2 linked regions of the Homo sapiens genome follow. The protein of the gene in region 1 binds, or shares a complex with, the protein of each later gene. Links are inferred from orthologs where the notes say so. Each region holds a gene or a part of one and is shown in the gene's direction. Other genes may lie near its edges. The genes, in order: HOMER1 and GRM5.

Region 1 (9,161 bases):
AAGCCTCATAAATAATTCATGAAATATTTTGGCTGAAACTCTCAAGTGTTGAGAATCTTCATTTATTTCTGATTCTTTTGCTTGGGAGAAACTTTAACACGAGTTCTAGGTCTTGCTTCTGCCTGCTTTAGCCATAAATATAATATCTATCCATTATGTTCTGCTTCAGAGAGTTTGCAATTGCCATCTTAAAGCCCCATCTCTCTTTGAAATGCTCCAGAATTTCTGCCTCAGCCTTGTCTCTCTGAAAAGAAGGCCATTTCCTTCCATAAGAATGATTGTCCTAAATACCTTGTGGGTTGTTTTTGTTTTAGTTGGCACCATAACAGTCACAAAATAAGGTAGTTCATTTAAAACATTTTCCTCATGGTTGTTCTGTTCCCCCATTCAGGAAAAAGACTATTGGTTACCATGGCAATCAGCTTCCACAGCATTCCATTCTAAGTAACTGCACAGGTACAGCACAACCTTTACTCCACATTCTTTACTGTAGTTCTCTGCAGATCTGCGTATTTTTCTAGCCTGTTTTCTCTAACTCCTGCTTAAAACAATCAACCAACCAACCCAGGTTAAGCCAGACAATTTTTTCAAAGGTACCTTATCCCCATCTTTTCTGAATATTTTAAAAATGTTATATAGACAGTTGTACTACCATTTCCTCTAATTTTGTTCTATGTGGGCCCTCAACAGCAGCTAACTGAAAACTTTCTAGTACCCTCTTTCACTATCTAGGATTACATTTGTATCCCTCTGACCATATTTGGAAAATGAATTTACAGTAAAAATCAGAGCAGGAGGTAGTTCTGAGATCATTTCCCATGGCTATCTACCATAGTTTTCCTAAGGCTAATTCTTTAGCTTCCTTTCCTCTACCACTTTCAAACCTCTGTAATAAATTGTCCTCAAGCCTTGCCTTGAAGATGCCAAACACTTGTGTTCCCACCCTTCAGACTGTTTAACTACTTTGCTTCTGTTCAGAACATTACTGACAATAAAAGATGGTCTTATTACAGGCCATACACAACTCAATGGTACCCGGTATCTGCTATATAATGGAGGAAGTGGGATGATTTTGGAGAGTCACTGGATAAATTCTGTTTCCCTGCAACTCTTTCATTCTTATTACGTTTACTCTTTGCTGGTTAGTTTCTTCATGACTATGTATTATAAACTAGGAATTATGATATTTATTTTATATAGAGAGATATCTTTTAACTTATTTTTCAATCTGACTTTATTTGAATTGATAGTGGTATTTTGGTAATTAAAAGCAAGTTGTTATTATCTAATGTAAGGCAATTAAAAATAAAATCTGGCTTTTACTCTCTTTCCTGCAAAGGTTTTCTATCTCTTAGATGTCTTTTCATTGAAAAAGACATATCTCATGACCAGTGTATGAACACCCCATTGAAGATTGCCATCTCCTATTAAGGGCATGGAAATAAACTCTGTAACTAAAACAGATGCCTTCGCCCACAGATTCTAAAATCAGAGGGTATTCATAAACCGCCCTACAAATTTTCAGAGCACAGTGGGAAACAGGAACTGTTAAAATCTGAAACTCTACTAAAGTACTTTCTTCCTCTTCCGGTAAAAGAAAATATATTACTTTCTAGGAAGTTTACTATTTTAAAAAACATACAAAAAAATCAGGGTTGGGAATTCACAACTAAAATTTGGGTTACATCAGCTCATCTTAGGAGAAAAGATATTTATTTACTTACAGATGGAAAGCCATGGAATGCCTCTCTGACTCCTCTTAAAACTGTATTGGAATTGTTTCAAGCAGGGAGAAAAGGCTATTTTTTTCTGAGAAGACATGCCATATTACATAAAATGTTTCAAAGTTTTACATATTCTTTTGACTACATGGACACATGTACTTACTGATCCTGATCCCATATAAGCTGGCAAGAAATTCATACCTATAAGTAATAAATTATAGGTAGAATTTTCTAGATTGAGGCTGAAGTTAAATAATTGCATAAACTTTGAGTAATTATATCACAGTGCACCATTCAATTTATGTAGAAAAAAAGCTGCTCTCAATTTTCAGTTGATAAAAGAGCAGCTGAGAAGAGACGATGTGGTTGTGAAAAGTAGAAACTAACAAAGGGTCAGCACTCTAAAGGCAGGAAAGCAGCTGAAAAGCTGTTTTGACAGTTGGGTAAAGATGAGGGGAAAAAAGACTGTAAATGAGAGGAAGTTGTGATGAAAGGGTAGAATAAAGTGTTTGAAAATGGTAAAGTGAGAGCTTTAATTAACATGGAGAGAAAGAGCAGGAAAGAGAGAAGTTATTTAGTTAGGTAGGAAATTGTTTGTAGAGAAATTTTAGTAGTGTAATAACATAATTTGTATTTTAATTTGCCAAGGGATGACATTATTGGAAGAATGATAGTTTTATTGTTTTAACATTTTAGATATAAGAAGCTCCATTTGTCTGAAATACAAATTGGTACAAGTTTCGATTAATATGATAATAATATACATTAGACAAATTGGCAAGCAGGGATTTGCCTTTCATTAACCTTTTGTTATAACCTTAAAACAAACAAACAAAAAGCAAAACAAAAAAAAACGACGCGGTCGGGCGCAGTGTCTCAAGTCTGTAATTCCAACACTTTGGGAGGCCGAGGTGGGCGGATCACTTGAGGTCAGGAGTTTGAGACCAGCCTGGCCAACATGGTGAAACTCCGTCTCTATTAAAAATACAAAAATTAGCCGGGCGTGGTGGCAAGTGCCTGTAGTCCCAGCTACTCAGGAGACTGAAACAGGAGAATCACTTGAACCTGGGAGGTGGAGGGTGCAGTGAGCCAATATCGTGCCACTGCACTCCAGCCTAGACAGCAGAGCGAGACTCCGCCTCAAAAAACAAAACAAAACAAAACAACGTAAAAAACTAGGGTGAGCGCTGTGGGTAATGCCTGTAATCCCAGCACACTGGGAGGCCGAGGCGGGTGGATCACCTGAGGCCAGGAGTTCGAGACCAGCCTGGCCAACACGGCGAAAACCCATCTCTATTAAAAATACAAACATTAGCCAGGCGTGGCGGCGCGCGCCTACAATCCCAACTACTTAGGAGGCCGAGGCACGTGAATTGCTTGAACCTGGGAGGCAGAGGTTGCAGTGAGCCGAGATCGCGCCACTGCACTCCAGCCTGGGCAACAGAGCGAGACTCAGTCTCAAAAAAAAGACTTAATATTTCAAACTTCAAGCAAGATCATAATTTTATAATGTGAAGATGACCAGAGTGTTTGAATCAGTTACAAATGGGTCTTTTTTGTTGTTGGTGGTGTTCTTTAATCTTGGACTCCTAACTTGAGCAAGAAAATGTAAATACAGAAAGCTGCAAAACCAATGTTCCTTAATTAGGAACCATGTGAGTAGTTTAACATTACAAACAGTTTCTAAAAGTCACACGTGGTATACATTCTAACGAGTTTTAGCTTCTTTTATTTAAACTGCGTTGATATTGATCTATAACTTTCCTAATAATCACTTCATAGGTTGGTAATCCTATGTTTTGGATTTTCCAGGTCACTTCAGATTCAAATATTTTTTCCTAACGTCAAATGGTGTGTCTAGATTTTGGTCTGGAAAACAGGGTCACTAAATTTGTAGACTAACTTGAAACAGTATTGGCCTTTGGCAATACGCAGCAATTCTATTTCTTGGCCATGCTTATCAAGTTAAGTAAAATAAAATCAAAGTTCACTATATGATTTACCTAATTAAAAAATTGTTTTAACCTAATTACTTTAAAATAATTTAAAAACTCTGTAGTAATTTACAATGTAAAAAGCACTCATAATATGGTGTTTATAGACACACATAGCTAGTAAACCTATAGACAGCTACTCACCCTTGCCATACAGAAAATGCAAAACACACTTAAGAGATATTGTAATTACATATTATGTGGTCAAAACTAAAGAAGACGAAAATATGCTTGTGTTAATGAAAAAGGATTTGGTGCTCTTTCTTATTTTTAATTTTTAAATTTTAATTTAAATTCCACAGACTGAAACCCATATACTTTTTCTCTTTCTTGTTTTACTGGCTGGAGCCAAGTGTCATGGAACTCATATTCTTGATGAAGAGAAACTGAGAGGACACACTGGCATTTGCTATACGTGAACTAAGATTGACTCATTTTCCTATGTCAAAACTGCTATTTTGCAAATAAAATTACTATCCTTTATAACATTATTTCGTTTGCTTATTGCTCTGCTCTTTATTCTTTCGTGTTTCAGGTAACCACTAACAAAAAGTTTAAAAGTCGACTATGTCCAGAATGGCACTCTATAATTGAAAATTTAGGTGATTTTTCCGAAGTCCTGTTGGAAGCACATCTACCAGCAGTGTGATCAGGCTCTCCCTCCCACATTTCCCTGCTAGTCAGGACAAGAGAAGCCCGGGGGTGCTGCTGCAATAGCGGTGGGAGTGGGAGATAGGCTATTACCCGCTTGACACTGCACTTTTGCTACGAATGATTCACTCAGGTTTGGCACATTTGTTGCAAGGAAATCTCCTCCTCCCGCCGCTTCCTTGTTCGAGCTCCTCTCGGGCTGTCTCCTGTGCTTTGGCCTTTAAGGAGAAGTGAGAGCAGGTGGGCACACAGGAGCTCGCCGAGTCCTCCTCCCCCTGCTCCTTCCCTAATTTAGCAGTACTTCCGGCCGCGTGACATCATCCCCCGCACCTCGGTGACGTGAGCTGCGGGTGACGTGTGTGCGGAGAGAAGCGCGCTGACGTTGCTATTTAAAGGTCCTCCTGCGGGGAGGATGGAGACACAGCGCGAGCACCTGGTGTGGGGCGCGGAGGAGGCTGTGGCGGTCGGGAGCGGGGCCAAGAGCCAGAGGAGGAGCAGAGCGCACGGCCAGCCAGCCGCCAGCCTCTAGGGGAGGGGGGAAAAGAAGGACGAACGGACTGAGGGCCTGCCGCCGGCCCAGCTCCCCACGAGGGCCGCTCGGCCCCCCACCATCAGCCTCTCCGCCGCCTTGCGGCTGCTGCTTTCTCCCGCGGCCCGCTGCTCGCAAGGCCCGTCGGGCTCCCGGGACCAGTCCGCGCCCCAGCCCCCGGCCGCGGCTCCGCGGCGGCCACCGCCTCCCGTCCCTTCCCGCGAGCAGAGGGAGGGACCGCCCTCGCTCCCCGTTCTCTCCGCCCCCTTCCCGCCCCCCGCAGCCCACTCTGCCGCCGCGCTAGCTTCACGCCGGCGGCGCTGACCGGGAAAGCAGCACCCTCTTCTCTGCCAGCCGGCCGGCCGGCGGAGGCGGAGGCAGCGGCAGGCTTCAGGCCGCCGGGGCTGGCGCTGCTCTGCCCGGCGGTAGCCGGAGGCGGGCGCTGATGGAAGTGTGAAGAGGCGGCGGCGGGGCCCGGGGAATGTGAGGCGGCGCGTGGCGGCGGCGCGGAGCGTGAGAGACGAGGAGTAGGGGTGGGGGCGCTGGAGCGGCGGCTGCGCTTCGGCTTCGAGCCCAGCTCTCCTGGCCCCAACGCGGGCTTAGCCTCCCGCCTTGGCTCGGGCAGGCGCCCGTCGACCCTTCGGCCCCTTTCGCCCGCCCTGGAGCTGGGGGCAGGGTGCCAGTGGAAGCGTGGGGCTTGGCTCTGTGATTCATTCATTCTCCGCCGACGGGAGCCTCAGACCCGCTGTGCTCTGAAGAGAGGAGGGAAGAGGGGGCAGCCGCGAATGAAGGGCCGGGCACCAGCCGGGCTCCATTGTGCTCGGCGGCGGGGGGCGGGAAGGGGCTGAGGGAGGTGGGATCGGGTCCCCTCCTCCAGCTCTCCGGCGTGCGCTGCGCCCCCAGCCTGCTGCCAGCCTGGAAATGGCTCCGTTTATTCTCTTCGGGAGAATGAATCGATCCTGCCTAGCCTTCTCTTCGTCCTCCCCACCTCTTCTCTGCTCCGAGTCTTAGGAGGAGAAACATTTAAAAAGACAGATTCCAATGTGGAGTGCCGTGCAGGTTGCGAGCTGCCGGGTTTGCACTTCGAGGAGATTTTCCTGTGTAGTTTTTTTCCTAATGTGAGCGCAGGGAAGCCGTGGCATTACTGCTTTTGGGATTTTTATTCACGTGCACGTCGCGTTTGGTTGCTCGCTCCACCCCCGGAGACCTGGTGTGGTGGAGAAATTTGAACCCGCAGCCTTAGCTCCGAAAAGGCCGAGTTACCTGGCTCTCCCTGAGTGTCGAGGAGGACATGAGTGAAATGACCAGCGAACTCATTTTTTATAGGACTCGGTGAAGCCGGATTCTGCATTTCCCTACTTGTAGACTCATTTTGTGGAATAGAGTTGATCGCTGTCTCCTCCGCAAAGCATTTTAACTCGAATAAGCAAATGCCGCCTCTGTTTGAACGTTTTGGTATTTACAAGAGAGAAATCATTTTACCTAAGAGAACTAATTGAATTGGCAGCATCCTTGAAATACCTCCGGACAAGGATCTGGGGGTGGGGGTGGAAAAGCAACTGCGAAATAGCAGACGGAGAAATTCCTTTGGAAGTTATTCCGTAGCATAAGAGCTGAAACTTCAGAGCAAGTTTTCATTGGGCAAAATGGGGTAAGGATTTTTGTGCTTAACACAGCTTCGAATCTGTTTATGTATGTGTATTATTGAGCGGTGGTGGTGATTGTGTTTTGTGTTTTCAAACAAACTTGCCACCTTGCTAAGCTGGTCATACTTTAAAGAAATAGGCATGCTAACCTTTTAGGTTATTTTTGCATTTTTGTAGAGCGGTACCAGAGGTCATAATTTAAAAACACATATATCGTTTGTAACTTGAATATGGATTTGTGAGTAATGTTTACAAAGACAACGCATTCTACACTTTACTGGTCAGACTGCTGCATCAGTTTGTAATCAAAATCACATTATTTTAGCTTTTGCTGACGGTTATCTTTCAAAGAGAAGTACTGCATTCTCTCAGTACTTTTAGATAATCAGTTGCACAAAGGAACGATTTTAATGAGTGGTTAGACAACAGTCCTTGAAAGTGATCCAGAGTAAATTGTTGCCCTCACCGTGCCCTCTGTCTTGTCCTTGAATATTCAAAGCTAAAATGTATAGAATTGATTTACTGGGGCGTTAAAACGAAAATCTGAAATTCAGTCTTACTGATGCGGTCACCACGGTACGGGTGCATTTCGTAGGAAAAAGCTTTTTGTTTAAGGAACTTGTTCACTCCTTTTGTTTTTCGCTTTTAAGCTCAGCCCTTCAGTTTGAGTTAACAGTATCAGATCTACACCTTCCTTCGGACCCAGAGCCAACTGAGAGTGCATTTTCCAGTCTTTTATTAACTCTTCACACTGTGGGTTGATGAAATGCTAGTGACACTTCCTAATTTAAGCTGGAAACCCATAATATATTAATGGAGCAATCTGATTTCATTGACAGGTTGTCACTGCTTTTTGGCAGAAGAACTTCCAGAATTTTCTCTTTTTGTGTGTGTGTGGTTGAACAAACACATCTGAAGTGTAGTTGAGGGGCATGTTTTAAAGAATGGACTCTGCAATTCATCGTGATGGTTTAGGTGTGTACACACGCTTGAAACTTTCTGAGGAAAGTTCTTGAATAGTACCTTCCTTTTGGAGTTAGAATTTGAAGTTTAACATGCATAACTTTGAAAATTTAGAGCATGTTGTAGGAGACGTTCCTCAGAAATTAATGACAAAGTTATAATGGTTTTAAAAACTTGAATGACAAGTGATGAGAATATATATAACTTGCATGATTTGGGGGTACCGCTAAGAGTAATTAAAATACCTCATTCTATTTCTAGCGCTGCTATTAGTAGCTTAGTGATCTGAGGCAAATTACTTGACCTCTGTGGACTCTATTTCTTACCTGTAAAATGAACGATTTAGAGATGACTTAAAGATTTCTCCAAACTGTAAAAAACGAATTGCTTTCTTTTTATTCTCCTCCTCATTTTAATGATCACTAGTTGGTTTCTGCAAGTCGATCTTTCTGATGGAGACCTTTTTCACTCTAAGCAGTTTAAGCGCTTAACGCTGAAAAATAATGGCATTTGAAAAATGTTTTGGATGAATTGCACCAATTTTAAATGAGAAAAATACTGAAAAATACTACTGTTCAAAACCTTAGAAATATGGCTTCCCTTGAGCATCTGCAGCTCTGTTTAAAACATGTTGGAGGAAAAAAAATCAAGCAGCAGTTTTTCATGTTGATGGCTGCATTTTGTCTAGACTGTGGAGTAGTAGCATCATGGAAGAAAATCAGTTTTCCAGAACCTTTAAGCTGCATGAATGCCTGTCATTTTACCAAGGGAAGCTTAGGATGAATTTTTTTTTCCCTGCCTGAGGTTTCTTTGTACAAATAGCACAGGAGGACCCCAGCCCCACAGCCCCATGCAGATGGCAGCCTGGCGGGGGGTCGCACCAGTCCTGTCCTCACGTTGGCAGATAGAGATATCTACTCTGAAGCCTCTGTAGGGGCCTGGGCACCTTTGGGAGCCTGAGCTGGAACTGAAGCTGGAGCTGCAGCCTGGGCCTTGGTTTGATCCTTGTCCTTGGCCTTTGGCCAGCACACCCTGAGCCCCTTGGCAATGCGGGCACGAGCATGCTTCCCAAGCTTGGGGTGGACAGTGTAGGCAAGTTGAGCTTGCGGCTGACACCCTTTGGGATCTTGGGCTTAACCTCCTTGGGCTTTAGGAGGGCCTTGATAGCCTTGGCATGTGCACTCATGGCCTTGGCACTGTTAGCCTGCATCTTCTTTAGGCCCTTCTTGTTGTGTTTCTTGGCAAACTGCATGTTCCTCAGGAACTTGGGGTCCACCCCCTTAAGAGATTCGTATCTTTGTGCTTCGGGTTTCTTGATACCATTTCTGTGCCATTTTTGGGACTGGTTGTGTGTGGTGTGGTTCTTGGACTTGGCCATGTCTGCACCTTAAGGCGCGGCTCCTGAAGCGCCTAGAATCTGAAGAGACAGGATGAATTTAATACTAAGGGGGCTGTTGTTTAAAGTGGGAAAGTTAGCACCACACATAACATGCATTTAGACACTTAGCATAATTAATTTGTTTATAAATGAATGTATCTGCCCTTTAGTTAATAAAGTTCTATATATGGACTGAGGAGAAAAAGGAGCGAGCATTTTGTGGTGCTATTTTTTTTTTTTTGGAAAGCCTGTATTTGGGGCTATGACCCTTTCTCA
Region 2 (7,215 bases), on another chromosome or scaffold:
ATCTACTAAAAATACAAAATTAGCTGGGCGTGGTGGCGCATGCCTACAATCCCAGCTTCTCAGGAAGCTGAGGCAGGAGATTCGCTTGAATCCCAGAGGCCGAGGGTGCAGTGAGCTGAGATGGCGCCACTGCACTTCAGCCTGGGCAACAAGAGCAAAACTCCGTCTAAAAAACAAAAAATAAAAAAAAAATCTTGAGTGTCAGGCCACATTCTCTGACCTTTGTAAAGTTTCTGAAAGAACGTCTGCAGCTTCAGAAGCTATTGTGTCAGCTTTTAGTGGTAAGGAGAGGTACTAGGGCGCTGAGGCTGAGGCACCAATCACATCTTGAGAGTGGCTTTCAGACCCCATGGTGGAAGTGCAAAGGAGAAAGAGAGAGAAAGGCCTTCAAAAAACTTGTCAGTCCCTCAATATTCACCAGGATCCTAATTTGAGATCACTCTGCTAAGTGCCGAAGGCATTATACAGCACTCTCACTCATTGAACTGTTATTCAAGTACAGAACTCAAAATACATTTGTGAGGTGAATTTCTGTGAAGTAAAGAAGCTCTCATTAGAAATGTGTGTTCATTAAATTTTTATTTTCCAGCAGGTAAGGCAGCCTAAGTAACACTATGTTCAAAATCAGGGGTTCAGACAGAAAACCCTAGTTATATATATACCAACTTCCAGAATAAAGGCGGAACTGGAACCACTGACTACCTCCTGGTAATCCCTGACTCTCTTACCCCTTCCCTCCTCTCTGATGATTGTTGGTGAGTTTGGGTCCTAGTGGTAATGTTTTCCTTCAGAGGCCACTAACTCTAGGAAGCCCCTGTCCTGTACCAGGCACTTGTGCACACAGCCGGGACACTGCAAGCCCTTGCATCTGTGTGCTGCTGCACTCACAGGTGGGCTCAGAACTCCCGCAGAATCCTAATAAACACTCCTTCATCCTGACAAGCATCCCCTTTGACACATTTTCACGATTATGATAAACTGAAGCCCTGATATAGAAAGCAGTCTTTAACTCAAAACAAGCAAAGGAAAGCCACTTCCAAGGTCTCTTTCCATGATGTCCTTTTGATGCTGTGTTTCCTGAAAGAATGAGAAAAGTCCTCCCCAGTCCGGGGCCCATGAGCAACCACCATTGGGGAAGCGGCATCCAAGCCCCCTGGGCACCTCGCTGAGTCACCTTTCCTCTCCCTTCTCTCCTCAGTTCCAATGGAAAATCCGTCACGTGGGCCCAGAATGAGAAGAGCAGCCGGGGGCAGCACCTGTGGCAGCGCCTGTCCATCCACATCAACAAGAAAGAAAACCCCAACCAAACGGCCGTCATCAAGCCCTTCCCCAAGAGCACGGAGAGCCGTGGCCTGGGCGCTGGCGCTGGCGCAGGCGGGAGCGCTGGGGGCGTGGGGGCCACGGGCGGTGCGGGCTGCGCAGGCGCCGGCCCAGGCGGGCCCGAGTCCCCAGACGCCGGCCCCAAGGCGCTGTATGATGTGGCCGAGGCTGAGGAGCACTTCCCGGCGCCCGCGCGGCCGCGCTCACCGTCGCCCATCAGCACGCTGAGCCACCGCGCGGGCTCGGCCAGCCGCACGGACGACGATGTGCCGTCGCTGCACTCGGAGCCTGTGGCGCGCAGCAGCTCCTCGCAGGGCTCCCTCATGGAGCAGATCAGCAGTGTGGTCACCCGCTTCACGGCCAACATCAGCGAGCTCAACTCCATGATGCTGTCCACCGCGGCCCCCAGCCCCGGCGTCGGCGCCCCGCTCTGCTCGTCCTACCTGATCCCCAAAGAGATCCAGTTGCCCACGACCATGACGACCTTTGCCGAAATCCAGCCTCTGCCGGCCATCGAAGTCACGGGAGGCGCGCAGCCCGCGGCAGGGGCGCAGGCGGCTGGGGACGCGGCCCGGGAGAGCCCCGCGGCCGGTCCCGAGGCTGCGGCCGCCAAGCCAGACCTGGAGGAGCTGGTGGCTCTCACCCCGCCGTCCCCCTTCAGAGACTCGGTGGACTCGGGGAGCACAACCCCCAACTCGCCAGTGTCCGAGTCGGCCCTCTGTATCCCGTCGTCTCCCAAATATGACACTCTTATCATAAGAGATTACACTCAGAGCTCCTCGTCGTTGTGAATGTCCCTGGAAAGCACGCCGGCCTGCGCGTGCGGAGCGGAGCCCCCCGTGTTCACACACACACAATGGCAAGCATAGTCGCCTGGTTACGGCCCAGGGGGAAGATGCCAAGGGCACCCCTTAATGGAAACACGAGATCAGTAGTGCTATCTCATGACAACCGACGAAGAAACCGACGACAAATCTTTTGGCAGATTTTCTTCTAGTGGCCTTAGAAAACATGGGCTTTTAAGAAACACGGCTGATATCTTTGAGGGCTGACAAGGCGTCTCTTCAAACAGTTCCATACCAAGTGCTTTGCTCTAGGGAAGCAGTGCGTGTGAAACAGCGTAACGGAGGGTGAAGAGCATAGTTAATAAGCAACTGTAAAAAGTTTTATTTGTTTACTTTAATTCTTTTCCCAGAAGAGTCTTTGATTCACCAAACATGAATGTACATTTTCTAACAAACTCAAAATCTGGGACCAAAACATCAACTTTTTTCTTTCTTTTTTCTTTCTTTTTGTTTTTTCTTTCCTGTAAAGACCTTGAAAAGCAGTAACTTGGGTCCAGTATTTACGGAGGCGTTGTGAATGTGTCCCATGCATAACACACTACTGGATAGTGAGTGCTGCGCTAATGTACTACGTAGGGCTTCTACCAGAGATTTTCCTCTCCAATTGGGTTGTGAAATACTCTTCCAAAAGCCTGCATCGGGGATTCCACCTACTTATTTCAGATTCACCTCCATTAACCAAGAAAACCAGTGGAAGATTTCTTGACTATTTCACCATGTTGCCAATCAATACTGGAGTAGCAAAAAAAATATTTTCTGGAATACTGTTTTGTAATTCCCTCACTGGGGTGCATTGTAGCTGGAAATTCTCTTTATAAAAATCATTCTTGAGCTCCAGCCTGGCTATCTCTTTCAAGAAACATGGCCACTCTTTAGGAATGCTGTTGCGTTTGCATTGCCAACTAAAATATTAAAATATGCATTGGGGCTTCTTCATTCCTTTATTTTGAGAACCTGATGCACAAAGAGCTCCTTTGTTCTTTTCGAGTCCCACCACTGGAAGAGTGGTCCATAGACCCCATGAAGACATTGTCATGATTTGAGAGACTGTTGTTGAAAGGATTAACACAATCTTAATACACTGAAAATTTTAACTGTGTCAAGTCAGCTTAGTGGAGATTTAGCTATGCCAGTGAGCAGTGATTTTAACTATTCTTGGCTGCTTAAACAGGGCAGCTATGAACTATGACAAATGTAGATTTTTCAAAGCAATACAAAATACTAAAAAAGAGGAACCTTAATGAATATTAACCACACAGTCTTTCTTAGCCATTCCAAAAAGAGGCAAAGCAATTCTTATTTTCTTTTTTAAAATAATGATTAATATGATTTTGTGCACTTCATACTGTCACTTTTTAAAACTACAGAAAAGAGATTTAGAGTATAACAGAAACAAGTGTGCTTTGATAGTCTCAAATAGGTAGAATTCATAGTTCAAGACCTGAATCCACTGTCATCTCTTTCTTCCTCCCATTGCAGCTATCCTCAGGTACCAAATGTTTTGATTTTTAAATAAGGATAGTAATAAATGGAGGAGGTGTCCTATAAATTTAAAGTTCAGTTGACCCAGCCTTATACTTAAGATAGCCTTATGAAAAATATGTGCTGTGAGGCAGAAGTATATTTTGGCAGAGAGAATAATAAATAAAACTTTTTCTTTTAGCTCAATATCCTTACTTTGGTAAGTATTTTTTTTTATTTCACATCTACTTAACAGAAAATAAACTGAGAAATAGAAGTCAGTCCATTGGCATAATTTATCATTCTTCACTTTAAAAAATTCTAATAAATATTCTGCTTGAGTTTTCTTTTCTGCTATTTGTTCTTACTTGCAACTTTAAGTCAAACCTCCCAATACAAAACATTAAAAGCTAACATTAATGTACTAAAGTATTAATTTAAAAGAAATCGAACCTCCCATGCTAGATTTGAAAATAACATCATCACAGCACCCTGATCCCAAATATTACACCGAGGCTTTTAAAATGTAAGTGAAATCTAGCTAAGTTTCATGGTTTCATTAAAAGCAAATGTCTGCCTCTATCTGAAAAACAAATGGAAATCTTTTGAGGTGTTAATACCCTTTGGATCCTCATCAAAAGGATGGCATTCACCTGAGGATTCCTATCTTGACTTCTTAGGTATTAAAAACCTTTCTTGATATGCTCTACATTTTAAAATTTGTTTTATAAAATCCTTATGTTGATTTTCATTTTATTCTCAAGTACAATACGTTTCACTCTAGACCAGTTGAAGAACATGTTTAAACTTTGTTCATGGTCAAATTCATTTTCTATTTTTTTAGTAACATATCTCTTAAAAAGCACACTACCTTATAAAAAACTTCATCAGAAATTAAATTTAATGCAAGTAAATTGCCATCTGATACTTCCACATGCTATCATAATCAACTGTAATAATAAAAATGATTTATCCAATTAGAAAAGGACAAGATATATTTTTCTCTGTATTTCTATAACTTTTGCCACTCCATTGAATACATTGTATGTTGGACATAAGATTATTAGTAATGCATTCTTGAGATCTTTTATTTTGGAATGATGCTAACTCTGTCTCTTTGCCAATTCTAATACCAGGTTCCAAGTAATAACTCTACAGTACAAAGAGAACTGAATATTCATTCTAGGGCTATAGGATATGAACTTCACAATTCATTTGGGTACATTCTCATTGAATTTCCTTCAAAACAATCTGTTCCTGGTGCCCAGTGATAATTCAGTCGGGACCAGCATGACTAAAAGGAAGGGGATATGCTAAGGCTCAGCAAAGTGACCCTAAATGAGAGATATGTCCCAGGATGGAAAGAAGAAGACGTGGTTTAACCAAGTTATACTGACTAATCTAAGCAGTCCACTCATCCTTCCATTTTGGGAAAGGAGTGGGGGCAGCCTAAGAAGAACATATCTGGATTGGGAAGAACCGTCTTTCTGGGCTAGGGATGGGGAACAGAAAGGGAGTATGGAAAGAAAAATTATAAGAGATTTGACTGAAGCAAGGAAAAAAAGCAAATCCCCAAACGTGCTAATCCTTGAAAGTAACTATCTTTCCCAAACTACTGCTGTTACCAGCAAGTGATCAGGAAGACTAGGAGCTATTTCTGACTGTAAATGAATTGTATAATAGCTCTGCTGCAGTTCTGTGACTTCCAAGCCAGGAATTAAATGCTCTTTTTAAGAATAACAAAAAACAAAAGCATTTCCTATGCTAGTCTCCCAGTAAAATGTACATGTTTTGGAGACTTCAAAGGTATTATGTGAGTTCACATTTAGCAACAGCTTATTAATAACCCTCAAGCTGTCAGAATCTCTATAGTTACCATTTACAATTTTATACTGTGAAAAAATACAGATCAGTGAAAGCATAAAGACAAGTCAGAATTCACTTTGAAGAGGGTCTGAGGCCTGGGAGAGTCTCTACTGTCTATTGAAGAATGAGGCATGTATAAAATAGTTGGTTGAATTTCACTGATCTTCCCAATGTGAACAAATATACTATGTATATTGTGTGTATTTCTAGAAATCAATGGCAGCTGCTGATGGTGTTGTAATTAGAAATCTATATAGATTATAGATGTTTTAGAAAGATGGTGCCAATCCTAAAAGATTTGTGTGGGCTAAAAGTGCTTGTACTTACTTTTTTCTGCACTTATAACTGATTTGGTTTTAAAATTGTGTGCGTGTATCTGTTCTTTCTCTGTTGTGGCAGCTTGTACTATTAAAATAATAGAGAATGTTAAATTATTTTGATGTGAACTGCAAATGATTTTTTTTCATAAAGTTTAACATTTTTATCAGCATTGTTTTGCTTTGTACTTGTATAAATATGTTTTATTTTAGCACTTCAAAATATACTTGCCTGTTTCTCAGTTGTCTAAATCATGTTGTACTTGGTGTTTGTGAAGCCAGTTACTTTTCAAAAAAATTAAAAAACCTATAATATGATTTTAAGATTATTCCCCTCAAATGTTTAGAATGTTGTCTTAATAGTGTTTTCTGAGATGAAAAGAGCCATGATACTAATTAATCTTGAATACTGGATGATCTATACATTTGAATTATGGGGTTTACAAAGTAAGCAGTGGACTGTATAGATTTAAATGAAAATATAAACCAACCACAAACCAACCAGAGATGTTGTCCCCAAACACATCTACAAACAACTGTTACATAAAGAAGTACTTAAAAAAATATATAGGAAATATGCATTGTTTATGCATCTAGACATACAAATTATAGAAATAGTTTCATAATTATATGTGTTGATAGAGGTAACATCACACAGATAAAATAGATTATTTGTGTGTGTATAGATGTGTGTTTACAAACATACATATTTATATAGACATTTGACTTTTGAGTCCATCTGCATGTGTCTCTGTGTATATGTGTGTTTGTGTGTAGATGTATGTGCATATTACATAATTTTTCCAGAAAAAAAAAAAGTTTTACTTTGACTGATTCTTGAGCAAATATACATTCCCTGGACACAAATTAGTGAAAAACTAACAGCAGAATATAAGGTAGATGCTTGATGTATGGAAGAGAAAAACAAGGTATATTTAAAAATATATTTGATTTATGCTTCTGACATTGTATTAAATGCATAATGATATATATACATATGTAGATACATATATTATACAGAATGTGTTTGATCTTAACAAAGAAAGCCATTTTATCTGTTTTGTCAGACTCTTCCCTTCAGTATCTTTTATTCTAACGTGATATGAATGGTAATATGTTCACATAAAATTGAGGATGAAGTGACATATACAAACCAGGTACAGGAAATTACCTTCTAAAAATCCAAAGAGCCTTATCAGACTCCATCAAATTATGGAAGGCCATTTAAAACCAGCGGATGCAATAGAAATAGCATTGAATTAAAAGCCAGGATCTCTTACCTGTCACCAACTGACTTTGGATAAATCACTCTGATTTCTCTACAACTTGTTCCTCTTGCTTTAAATGCAGAAGTGAGTTACAATAATCTGTGAAGTTTCTATCATTTCAACATTCCTGATAAATGC

The links.
Region 2: the proteins of HOMER1 (region 1) and GRM5 are in contact, whole or in part, in a crystal structure (PDB 1DDV), measured with the Rattus norvegicus proteins. The link is inferred for Homo sapiens from one-to-one orthologs. Residues at the interface, in NP_113895.1 of Rattus norvegicus: His12, Phe14, Trp24, Thr70, Ser71, Gln72, Lys73, Phe74, Gly89, Phe90; in XP_006229721.1 of Rattus norvegicus: Thr1155, Pro1156, Pro1157, Phe1160.

The regions. Positions count from the first base shown.
Region 1 is NC_000005.10:79,510,158-79,519,318, reverse strand, and holds the start of HOMER1 (homer protein homolog 1), read left to right. Parts: upstream 1-5,184; 5' UTR 5,185-6,544; coding exon 6,545-6,549; intron 6,550-8,301; exon of another isoform or gene 8,302-8,932; intron 8,933-9,161. UniProt on the Homo sapiens protein: Postsynaptic density scaffolding protein. Binds and cross-links cytoplasmic regions of GRM1, GRM5, ITPR1, DNM3, RYR1, RYR2, SHANK1 and SHANK3.
Region 2 is NC_000011.10:88,503,488-88,510,702, reverse strand, and holds the end of GRM5 (metabotropic glutamate receptor 5 isoform a precursor), read left to right. Parts: intron 1-1,198; coding exon 1,199-2,111; 3' UTR 2,112-6,061; downstream 6,062-7,215. UniProt on the Homo sapiens protein: G-protein coupled receptor for glutamate. Ligand binding causes a conformation change that triggers signaling via guanine nucleotide-binding proteins (G proteins) and modulates the activity of down-stream effectors.